Linked DNA regions of Homo sapiens. The protein of the gene in region 2 interacts with the protein of the main gene of each other region in a pairwise test. Each region holds a gene or a part of one and is shown on either strand. Other genes may lie near its edges. The genes, in order: AAMP, NELFCD and CACNA1A.

Region 1 (3,657 bases), on a different chromosome or scaffold from region 2:
TGGAGGGCAGCCGCCCAAAGGTGCCTGCAGGGGCTGTGGGGAAGAGCCTCCCGGGACAGTCCCGGCCCCAGCATTGCCTACCACCCAAGCAGCCAAAGCAGTGTCGACCTGGACTTGAACTAAAGGAAGGGCCTCTGCTGACTCCTACCAGAGCATCCGTCCAGCTCAGCCATCCAGCCTGTCTCTACCGGGCCCCACTTCTCTGGATCAGAGACCCTGCCTCTGTTTGACCCCGCACTGACTGAATAAAGCTCCTCTGGCCGTTTATGATTATCTCATTCCATATCTCAGGGCGAGGCAGGAGGAAATGGCTCAACACACCAACAATAGAAAGAACCTACAGACATACGCGTGGATTAAGGCAGAGTCCGACTCCAGGCAGGCAAGAAGTGTCGTGCGCACAGACCACCCCTGGAGATGGGGAGCTGGCACATCTCAACATCCAGCCGATTCTGCGGGACAGCCTTGCCCTGACGGGGCCCTCGCTAGCTCCTCCTAGGGTCCAGCCATCACAAAATCCACACAGACTCTGTCTCTGGGAAGTATATTTTATTTACATTTTTAAAATCTTTAACTAGTATCTCTTCCTCCTTTCCACCCCCAGAGACTTGGGAAGGGAAAGAACGGGAACCTCAAACACCTACTCCCCACATACAAATACACACCCCATGGCTCACACCAGCAAATGAAAGTGAAAGAGAAACAGGTCCACCCCTCCCTCTGAAGGGCCCACCAGGTCTGGACAAGGGTGGGAGGGCCCTGGGCTGGGTCTCTAAAGAGAAGAAAAGGAGAGGGGAGCAAGTCAGTTGAAGAGGCTGGAAAGTCATCCAGGGCCCCACCCTCCTCTTCCCTCTGTGCCCTACTGCCTCTGCTGGCAGACAGGGGCAGGGGTCCCTTCGTCCCCTCAACACCAGACACACAGGCAGGGGCTGCAGCCATTAACGGTCAGGCCTTTGGACACAAAATACTTTCGCTTTGTGGTCTCCTGACGTGGTCACCACCAGGGAGGCATCTCTGTAAACAGAAAGCATGTGATTGCAGAGACTGGGGGACCCAAGCCCACCACCTAGGGGCCCTAGGGTGGGCTCCTCCAGCACACCCTCAGTTCTAGGGCCCTAGTGCCTAGCACTGGGCCGACATCTCTGCAGCCAGCATGGAGGGGATTAGAGGAAGCCCCCAGCACGGGAGAAGCAGAGCTGACTCCGATGGGGAAAATCAGTCTCAGCCTCTCCCTCATGACTGAGACGTGGGGCCCCGGAGGGTCACTGTCAGCCACTGGAATGGGGGCTGGGCTGTGAACCCTCAGGCTTCTCTGCATTCCTGCCTTAGGAATCCCTTCCCACACCCCAAGGATCCTGTGTCCCCTACATACTACTGCCACCTTCCAAATACACAAAGATCCCAGCCCTTGGCCAATTCACTTACTTGCTGAGGGCAAAGTCCAGGATCTCAGCCGTGTGGCCCCGGTAGTCAGTAAGCAGGCGGCCGGTCCGGGCGTCCCAGAGGCGCACGATGCCATCCAGGCTGCAGGTATATACCACGGCAGTGCCTGCCTCCCACAGCAGCTGCACGATGCCCGACTGCCCCGAGGAATGACAGAGGCAGGGCGGAGGTTGGCAGGAGAGCTGAGAGCCATCTGCTCCCAATTCTCAAAGAGGGACAGCCACACACAAGGGCCAGGCAGGAGCCAGATCTGGGGTAGATGCTCCTGGAGGCCTGGGCTTCCCCACCACTATGGACACAGCCCACAGGGACCCCAGCTCCAGCTGCCCATACCTGGTGCTGACACTGATGCCTAAGAGTCTGCGTAGCCAGGTCATAGATGGCCAAGGTCCCATCCAGGTAGCCAACAGCTGCCAGGGGCATCCTGGCCAGAGGAGCGTACCATGAAGACTCATGAGGGCCTGGACTCACACGCCCTGCCGTCCTCCCGGGCCCCCAGCCCAGGCCCCTCCCACAAACCCCTTTCCCCATCCTCACTCACACACTGCAGAAGCCCAAGGACTCCACCGAGTTGGACTCACTCTCCTCCCCTTCTCCCAGGCTGGGCTGGGAGGCCACAGTCTCAGGTCTAAAAACACCCACCACCTGAAAGCCAGAGAGGATCAGAGGAGGACACGGAATCCGGGTGCTTGATGGAGAGAAAGACGGTGGGGAGAGGAGACAGTGAAGACCCAGGAAGGAAGGAGAGGAGTCGGGAAAGCGGAGGCCCCAGCCGGGCTCCAGGTCCACTCACCTTGCCGGTGGTGGCACTGACCAGCTTGGCCTGGCAGTCCACAGAGCCAGTTAGGATCAAGCTGCCATCCTGGTTGGCAGCAACACAGGTGAGTGGGCCCTGGTGACCCTCAGTCCCTAGCATAGAGCAGGGAGGCAGCTCAGGCTTCGTCCTACCTCCCCTCTGAGTCCTGCCCCAGGTTCTCAGCCCCTCCCTACAAAGGCCCAGGCTAACACTTCCCCCACCTCTGATACCTTTCAGTACATGGATAGGGCTTCCCTGCTTCAGGTCCCAAATCCTGATGGTCCCATCTTCATAGCCTACCACAGCTCTCTTCCCTGAAGAGAGGCACAGATGAAGAGAGGGCAGAGGGCACGCTCACATACACTAAGCAAGGGAATGGGGAGAGGGAGAGGAAAGAAGAGTGGAAGGGCCCAGACACTGCCCCAGGAATCACAGGTGAGTTCAGAGCAGGAAGGAGGCGCTGTGAACTTTGGGGCCCAGGAGGTCAGCACTGCAAACAGCAGGCCTCAGATTTTGCCGGCTGTGACCCAGAAGGCTGCTCTGGGAGGTGTATATCCCGGGATTCGGCCTCTGCACCCAGGAAAGGTCACTCAAGGGAGGTGCTCTCACCATCAGGGAGGACTCGGCCACAGGTGGCTGGGCAGTTGGGACCCTGGAAGGTCTTGCAGTCACCATTCGGGACTTTCCACATCCAGGTGTTGCCGTCAGCTGTGCCCGCCAACAGGACAGGTGCCCGAGGATGCCACTCCATCCACTGGACAGGGAGGAAGGGGCAGCAGGGAGGCCCGTCACCCCATCCCACCTAGAAGCCTGCCCCATGAGCTCCACCCAAGGTTTCCTGCCTCTGGGGTTCCGCGGGGACTTTCCAGGTAGCAGGTAGATATTCTTCCTGTGCCTTGGGGCGCATTGGCTCAGAGCTGGCTTGGCGCAATAAAGGCAGAACTGGCCTCCCAAGCTTGCACCCCCAACAACCCAAGGCCCCACAGAGCTGACTCCCGCTCTGATGATCTTACCTCCAGGTCTCCCGCTTCAAAGGACCAGACCTCCTCCTTAGTGTCCACCTGCCACACTTTCAAGAGGCCACTCATGTCCCCTGTGGCCACTAGAGTGGAGTCATGGCTGAAACCAGCACAAGTCACAGAGTCTTTATGGCCTTCAAAGAAAAGTGGGCAGAAAACAGAGGAAAAAAATAGGGTACCTGGTGCTGGGGGCATGTGATTCTGGTATCTGGCCCACTGAAAGGACCAGCTAGGAAAAAAAGAGGGGCGGGACTGAGCAGAACAGGTGCTGGAACTCACCACCACTCTAGGAACCAATACTCCCATGTCTGCTGGGAGACACTGCTGGCCCTCACTCAACCAGACCAAGTCCCAGCCTCCTATGCCTTCCCCCTTCTGTCCACTCTACACCTCTGCCCG
Region 2 (3,648 bases):
GCGGGGGTCAAAATGTTTGATCAGCAAACTCTTCAAGTGATTTTCCACAGTTTCCTGAACCTGCACTGGCTCAACACCTGAAAGAGAATAAAAGCAACTAGACAATGGCAAGCTGTCCATTCACTGTGTGGCTTTAGAAAGCAAATGGTCAAAAGTCTCTATGTGAATCAAATACCAAAGAATTGCTTCTGACCACTTATACATGTAAGGTTTTGGAACTCTTCAAAGTAGTTATCAATGATAAGACCAAAAAGCAGCACAGAACAGAACACACAAGTCTGGTCCACCCCTAACTTCATGGAAAGGACAGCACCATCTGCAGAGCCTCACTGAGGATAAAGACAAATGGCCCCAGCAACAGGTAGGGGGATGGAAAAACATCCCTGCCCAGTGAGGAGGGAGCAGATGGCAGCCAAAAGAGACACACTTGTATCTAATCACCGGGACAGCAGTGTGTCCACAAGCTTCCGGACAGCACGCACTTCAGTGATGTCATCTGCACCCGGCTCCGTGGATTTACAGTAAGACTCTACTTTGATCATATTAACTAAAAGCCATAATCACAGCCAGTCCTAAATTATCCGTCATTTACTGCTTGCTGTAATAGACGTCTTGAAAATGACACACTGAACACACACTGTATAATCCTATAATTCTACAACATGGTAGGGAAAACAGCTCAATGAGAATCACGTTTGCAGGCTACCAGTAAACCTCAATTACTGAATCAAAGATAAGAGGCAAGCAGATACAAATGAGTAAGATAAAGATAAAAATGAGTAAGAAGTTCAGCTCTTTCTTACACAAGTCTCAGAAACCAGGAAATCAAAGAAGGCATTGTATCAGTGTTATAAGGACCCAAAAGTCTATTTTTAAAAAAGTGGGGGTAACTAGCCAGGACAGGGGACACCCACAAAGCACCTGTCTGAATGAGCCACTCGGCCAGCAGGTTCACAGTCTGGGCCACAGCGGTGTAGTTTTCAGATAAGAGCTGGATAACATTCTCTGGAGACCCTCCTGCCTGAAAATACCTAGGGAAAGTAACAACAGCAATTACACCCGAATGAATGGAATGATGGACAACAGGAAGGTAAGGAAGGAGGAAGAGAATCAGGTTTCAAAATTTTTAAAGCAGCGGAGGGGGCTGGGTGCAGTGGTGCACACCTGTAATCCCAGCACTTTGGGAGGCAGAGGTGGGAGAATCACTTGAGCCTAGGAGTTCAAGAGCAGCCAGGGCAACGTAAGGAGCCCTGTCTCTCCCAAAAAACAAAAACAAAAATAGCCAGGCATGATGGCAGACGCCTGTGGTGGCCACCTTGCAAGGCTGAGGTGGGAGAACTGCTTGATTCCAGGAGGCTGAAGCTGCAGTGAGCGGTGATTGTGCCACTGCAACAGAGCAAGACTCTGTCTTAAAAAAATTTAAAAAAAAAAAAAAAGTGGCAGAGGGGACCCCCCCTTGAAGCCTTTAGTTCAGTTCGCGTTACTCTTGCTTTACATAGCACCTTCTGGGTGTATTACAAAACTTTCTCTAAATTACCCCCAGCCTCCTCCCAATACAGACACCTTTCTCACATACCTCTTCAGAGTGTTGAAGATGGAGGGTTCCATGATATAATCCCGGGTGGAAAATTTATGCAGGCATTCTTGCTGAACCTCCGCATCATCCTCTCCTTCTCCAGAATCATCCTCCTGCTGTTGGTAAATGCGAAGAGCCAGGATATTTTTTTCATTAATACAAATACCCTAATCTCACCTTAAATCGTATAATGCTGCCCATTTTGAAAGTATTCTACACACATTATTTCATTTGACTTTCATGACAATTTCATGAAATGGGCTGGACAGATAGTGAGTGGCTAGGAAAATGGGATCCAGGATCACACTGAGTGGGTGTGTACAACTCCTCCCTGGCAAACCGCGTTCCATGCTCACACAAGTTACCCAACCTCTCTGAGTGTCCATTTCCTCCTCTGTTAAGTGAAGATAATAATAACGCCTATTCCCATTTGGCTGTTGTGAGGATTCCATGAGCTAATTTTTGGAAGAACCCAGCATAATCCCTGACATTTCGTAACAGTGCAATAAATAGTAAACTATTATTATTATTGTTTTCACTATTCTTATTTCATACATGCCACTGAAGAGTAACAACCTGATTCTTGAAAGCGTGAGCCATCACTTACCATTAGAAAGTAAAGACCACTAACTCGCCTTGCATCCACACTTCTGGCTGGACTCCAGTCCCAATTCTATGTGGAAGCAACTTCAGGCCTGTCACTCCATCTAAGGGCAAAGCAGGCTTCTTCACCTGCTAATGACCATGTGAGGATGGACTGTGATCCCAAACCCTGTCCAACTTTAACACTGCCACCCTAACTAACAAGCAGATGCTTTTTGAACATTCAGTCTGCACTATGCTCATCAACCAAGGAACCTAAGAAAATGTAAGACAAGACAAGGCTTTTTCCATCAAAGAAGTTCACAAACTAATAGGAGAGACAGACCTCCATGCAACCTACTCTAACATAATGGGGCAAGAGCTGGGCCAGGGGTCAGCAAACTATGACCCAGAGCCGAATCCAGCCCTCTCCTATTTTTGCAAATAAACTTTTACGGAACACAGCACACCCATTCTTTTAAGGACTGTCTATGATTGCTTTCCCCCTGTAAGGGCAGAGGTAAGTAGTTAAGACAGAGACAGGCACAACCTAAAATATTTGCTATCTAGCCTTTTTCAGAAAAGTTTGCTCACTCCTGATCTGGACTAAGATCCTAAAAGCAGTGCTTTGGGAGCAGACAGAACCCGATGACTTCCCAGTAAAAGCTGTGGAGTCTTCTCTCAGACCAGATTTGCATGGGGAACGCTGAGCCCCTAAGGGCATGACAGAGGCCGGACTTCACCCCGAGCTTCATTCCCACGTTGTCTGTTCTCTTGGGCTTCCACCCTGGGCACTCACCTACCTGCCTCTTCCACCACCTCTTGGGTCATGCTATCTACCTGCTCACCAATCTAGAATTAGCCTGGATCTCTCTCTCCGTCTTTCCTCTCTTAAGCTCCAGACTCAGGTATCCAACATTCCATTCTCATTTCCAGTCAGATGTCTCACAAGTATCCAAACTCTTTAGGTCCAAAACTGACATCTCTTCCCTAGAAACAGATCTTCTTCCTACAACCCATATTTCCGTAAAGGTATCCTTCATATATCTACTTGTTACCCCCCAAACCTGAAAATCATCCTCAGCTTCTCTCCCTCACCCCACCCCCACATCCTGTCACAAAGACTCATCAGTTCCATCTCCCATCTGTCTATCCAAGGTGGTCCTTCTTTCCACATTTGCCTCTGCTCTTCCTTATTTTTTGTATGCTTGCAGTAGCAACATTCCCCTGAAGTCTCAGTCTTATTCCTTCCTTTCAATCATCTTTCACACCGTGGCCACAGTGATCTTTGTAAGCCACAAAACTGACGTCTCTCTCCTGCTTAAAGATTCCCATCTCCTTCAGGAAAAAACGCCCCAGCTCTAGCAAGAGCGTGCCCTTCCCACTTCCCCTGTCCGTTCTGACCTCTCACCACTCCCCATTTGCAATCTGTAGCAGGACTCATCTATTTGCATGTCTGCAGCTCTTAGTTTCCACCATCCAGACTGAAC
Region 3 (3,648 bases), on a different chromosome or scaffold from region 2:
CTCGGAAATGCGTTACTGCACGGCTCTTAGGCTCTGATCATTTCTGGATGGAGTCCACCTTCCCGGCGGTGCTTTTTATTGCTGAGAAAGTGTATATGTGTGCTTGCTACTGGGGGGGAAACAGGGAGGGGGAAGCATAAGCCCTACGCACCCAACAGATGCCTCCCACTCCAAGTCCCTGAAGAAAGACTTCATTCTCAAGGGGCCGCTGCATCCAATCTACTCAAGCACTAACATTTCAGAAACTTTCATTGGTCTGATAATCTCATGGACAGTCTCTCAACCCCCTGCAACTAAAACCCATCAAAATCCTAAAACGTTGGCACAAGGGTAGATCAGATAGATGTTATACAATTTAGTTAATGGGTGAAGACAGGTACCTTTTCTCATTTGCTCAGCAAACGTTTATAGGACGCCTGCTTTGTCCCACACACTGGGGTTGCAGTGGTGAAGAACAGGGTAAAGATCATGGGTCTCACAGCCTCAGAGCTTGACTTTTTCCTGGGGAATGGTAGAACTACCAGGGAGGGGTGGAACCCCACCCAAGAGAACCCCTTCTTTCTCTCTCTCTAGTGCAGGCACATAGCTTTGAATGACATCCTTAATCTTTCTTATTTCTCTGACCGGGATTTAACACTATTACTTCCACTCCTTTCCATAGATCCACATCCTTAATCCTAAGCCATCGAGGCCAGACGTGCTTTGGAATTCAGAACTCAGGGCTTTTAGACGCATTGCAAAGATGGGAATGTAAAATGGTACAACCACTTAGGAAAACAGTTTGAGAGCCTCTTATAAAATTAAACATACACCTACCACACAACTCAGCAATCTCACTCCTGGGTTAATTTACCCAAGAGAAATGAAATGTATGAAATGAAATGTTCCCACTAAAACCCATAAGCCAATGTTTATAGCAGCTCTATTCATAATCATTGAAACTGGAAGCATCCCAATGTCCTTCGGCTGGGAAGCAAACTCTGGTCCATCCATATCATGGAATCCTGCTCAACACCAAAAAGGAAGGCGCTACTGTCACAGGCAACAGCATGAATGAATCTCAAAGTCTGAGTAAAAGAATCCACATTCAAAAGGCTATATACTGTGAAATTACATTTATATGACCTTCGGCAAAAGGCAAAGCTGTAGGGATGGAGAACAGATCAGTGGTTGAAGGGGCTGGAGAAGTGGGGTGCTGACTCAAGAGGGGCACTGTGGGGGTATTTTAGGGTTGATGAAACTGTCCCATATCTTGATTTGGGTGGTGGCCACAACTACATCCATTTGTCAAAGCTTGCAGACCAGTATGTCAAAAGGGTGAATTTTGCTACAAATAAATTATACATCAATAAATCTATTTTTTTTTTGAGACAGAGTCTCAAAAAAAAGTACAGTGGTGCAATCTCGGCTCACTGCAACCTCTGCCTCCCAGGTTCAAATGATTCTCCTGCCAGCCTCCCGAGTAGCTGGGATTATAGACGCACAATACCACGCCTGGCTAATTTTTGTATTTTTAGTAGAGACGGGGTTTCACCATGTTGGCCAGGCTGGTCTCGAACTCCTGACCTCATGATCCACCGGCCTCAGCCTCCCAAAGTGCTGGGATTATAGGCGTGAACCACCAGACCCGGCCCCTATAAACCTGATTTTTAAGGAAAAGAAAAATGATAACAAGATGTCTCTATGATCTAACCTGGATACTCCAACCCTAGCCCATGAACTTACCACATGGGGAATCCCTAGAAGCTAGCTAGAAAAGCAGAATCCCAGACCCCACCCAAATCCTGCTGGACCAGAACCATCCTGTTAACAAGACAACTTCCATACACCTGAAAGTTTGACAGGACTACAATGCAGACCTAACAGTCAGGAGCTGAAGCAGCACCTCATCATCAAGCACATCTAACATTTCTGCTGCAAAACATACTCAAATGCACACCAAGTAGAATGAATGAAAACTGTAAATTAAGACTTCAAACTGAAGTCAGTTCAGGTTAGGTTTTACCTCTATATGAGCTCGTCTTTTGGTTTTTGGAGCTTTTTGGATTGGGGAATTGTGGATAAGAAATTGCACCCTTTTTGAAAATACTCCCATTGGAAAAGCCGTGCTAAATTTTACTTCGCAGAATTTTGCTCCTCTGGAAATACCAGCCAAGCCGGTCTAGTACAAGGATCACGTAAGTGACACCATCCTGCCCTCTACGGCAGTACCTTCTAGAACATTCTATCTCTCAGGACAGGCCAAGAGTCTGATAACCTGCTCCCATGTCTCCCAGCGCTTCTCATGCAGAAAGTTTCTCTTTAGAGAGCTTTTCTTAAAAAAAAAAAAAAAAAAAAAAATGAGAGGAGTGCCAATCAGCCAATGTCCACAGATGTCAAAGTGATGTCACCTGATGTCAATGTGACTTTAGGTGTCTTGTTAAGATTTCTGCAAACCGGATGAAAAGCTGGAATTCTACGTGTAATTCAGGCAACTGTGCGTGATAATACACTGACCTGCTTCCAGTGTTCCTCCGATGGCCTGAGTTTCTACATCATGTTCAGTGGGAGACCTGGTGGCACAGGGAGGGCTGGAAAGATGACATTCACCTTGGCACTTGGTAGAAGGAGTGAGTGGCATTAAGTGGGGAGGGAACTCTAGGAAGGCTGACAGATGCTCCTTTTTGAGCTGACAGATCTGAGCTCTTCGGCAATCATCAGAGACCCTCATGGCCCTATTTGAATCACAATTCCAGTCAATGAAAACATGAAACCAAGGTGTGTGGTCAAGACGGCTTGCTGCCTGGCATGAGAAAAACACGGCAATGTAAATTTGAACATCAAAGACTTCCATTTGGGTTTCCTCACTTAGGAAGAGGGGAAAAAATGAAATAAATGAGGATTCTTAATTGTCATTGATGGCTTCAAGTTTGACCCACTGAGGGATGAAAGAGGAAGAAATCATAGTGACAAATTGCCCCGAGTGTGGAGAAAGCAAGACTGCATCCTTCACCAGTGTACCATGCCAGAATTTACATTTGGAAGTAGCACTCTTAGGCCCTGTGAGCATACCGACAAGTTCATGGATCATTCACTCACTTCTCTTAAACAAGACAGGGAGGAACCTGCTTTCCATATCGACCTGCAACCCTTAGTCAACACCATTTCCAAATACACATCCCACAACACATGCATCAAAAAGTAGCAGGGGCGATTCCACTCCTATCTAAGAGAACTGTGGGAAAAAAATAATAGAAGACACAAGAATGTTCCCAGTGGCACAAACAGAAATGACACAAATGCCCATCAACAGTAGAATGGATAGATTGTAGTAGAGTCACATACACAGATGTGAGCAAAAGAAGCCAGTGGCAAAAGAACGTACTGTGTGACTCCATTTACATGTTTAAAAGAGGCAAAATGAACCTTAGAAGTCAGGTGAGCGGTACCCTTGTTGGGGGAGCAACTAGGAGGCGGTATGGGGAGGGGGACTTCCAGGGCACTGATCGGGACCTGGGTGCTGGATACGTGGGTGTGTTCATTTTGTAAAAATCTATGCATCTGAATATATGTACTTGCCTGTACATATATTAGACTTTATTTAAGTACCTACACACTTTTTTTTTCACTCTCAGGATATGCTGAAACATTTTTTTTTAATGGCAGAAA

The links.
Region 1: the proteins of NELFCD (region 2) and AAMP interact in a two-hybrid assay, tested with the Homo sapiens proteins (one large-scale study listed by IntAct).
Region 3: the proteins of NELFCD (region 2) and CACNA1A interact in a two-hybrid assay, tested with the Homo sapiens proteins (one study listed by BioGRID and IntAct).

What each region holds. Positions count from the first base shown.
Region 1 is NC_000002.12:218,263,595-218,267,251, forward strand, and holds the end of AAMP (angio-associated migratory cell protein), read right to left. Parts: intron 3,393-3,657; coding exon 3,253-3,392; intron 2,994-3,252; coding exon 2,849-2,993; intron 2,554-2,848; coding exon 2,470-2,553; intron 2,353-2,469; coding exon 2,237-2,352; intron 2,089-2,236; coding exon 1,985-2,088; intron 1,868-1,984; coding exon 1,777-1,867; intron 1,581-1,776; coding exon 1,426-1,580; intron 1,015-1,425; coding exon 939-1,014; 3' UTR 535-938; downstream 1-534. Other genes in the region: GPBAR1 (G-protein coupled bile acid receptor 1), read left to right, coding at 1-123. UniProt on the Homo sapiens protein: Plays a role in angiogenesis and cell migration. In smooth muscle cell migration, may act through the RhoA pathway.
Region 2 is NC_000020.11:58,984,137-58,987,784, reverse strand, and holds part of NELFCD (negative elongation factor C/D), read right to left. Parts: intron 1,693-3,648; coding exon 1,577-1,692; intron 1,032-1,576; coding exon 922-1,031; intron 78-921; coding exon 1-77. UniProt on the Homo sapiens protein: Essential component of the NELF complex, a complex that negatively regulates the elongation of transcription by RNA polymerase II.
Region 3 is NC_000019.10:13,499,841-13,503,488, forward strand, and holds part of CACNA1A (voltage-dependent P/Q-type calcium channel subunit alpha-1A), read right to left. Parts: intron 1-3,648.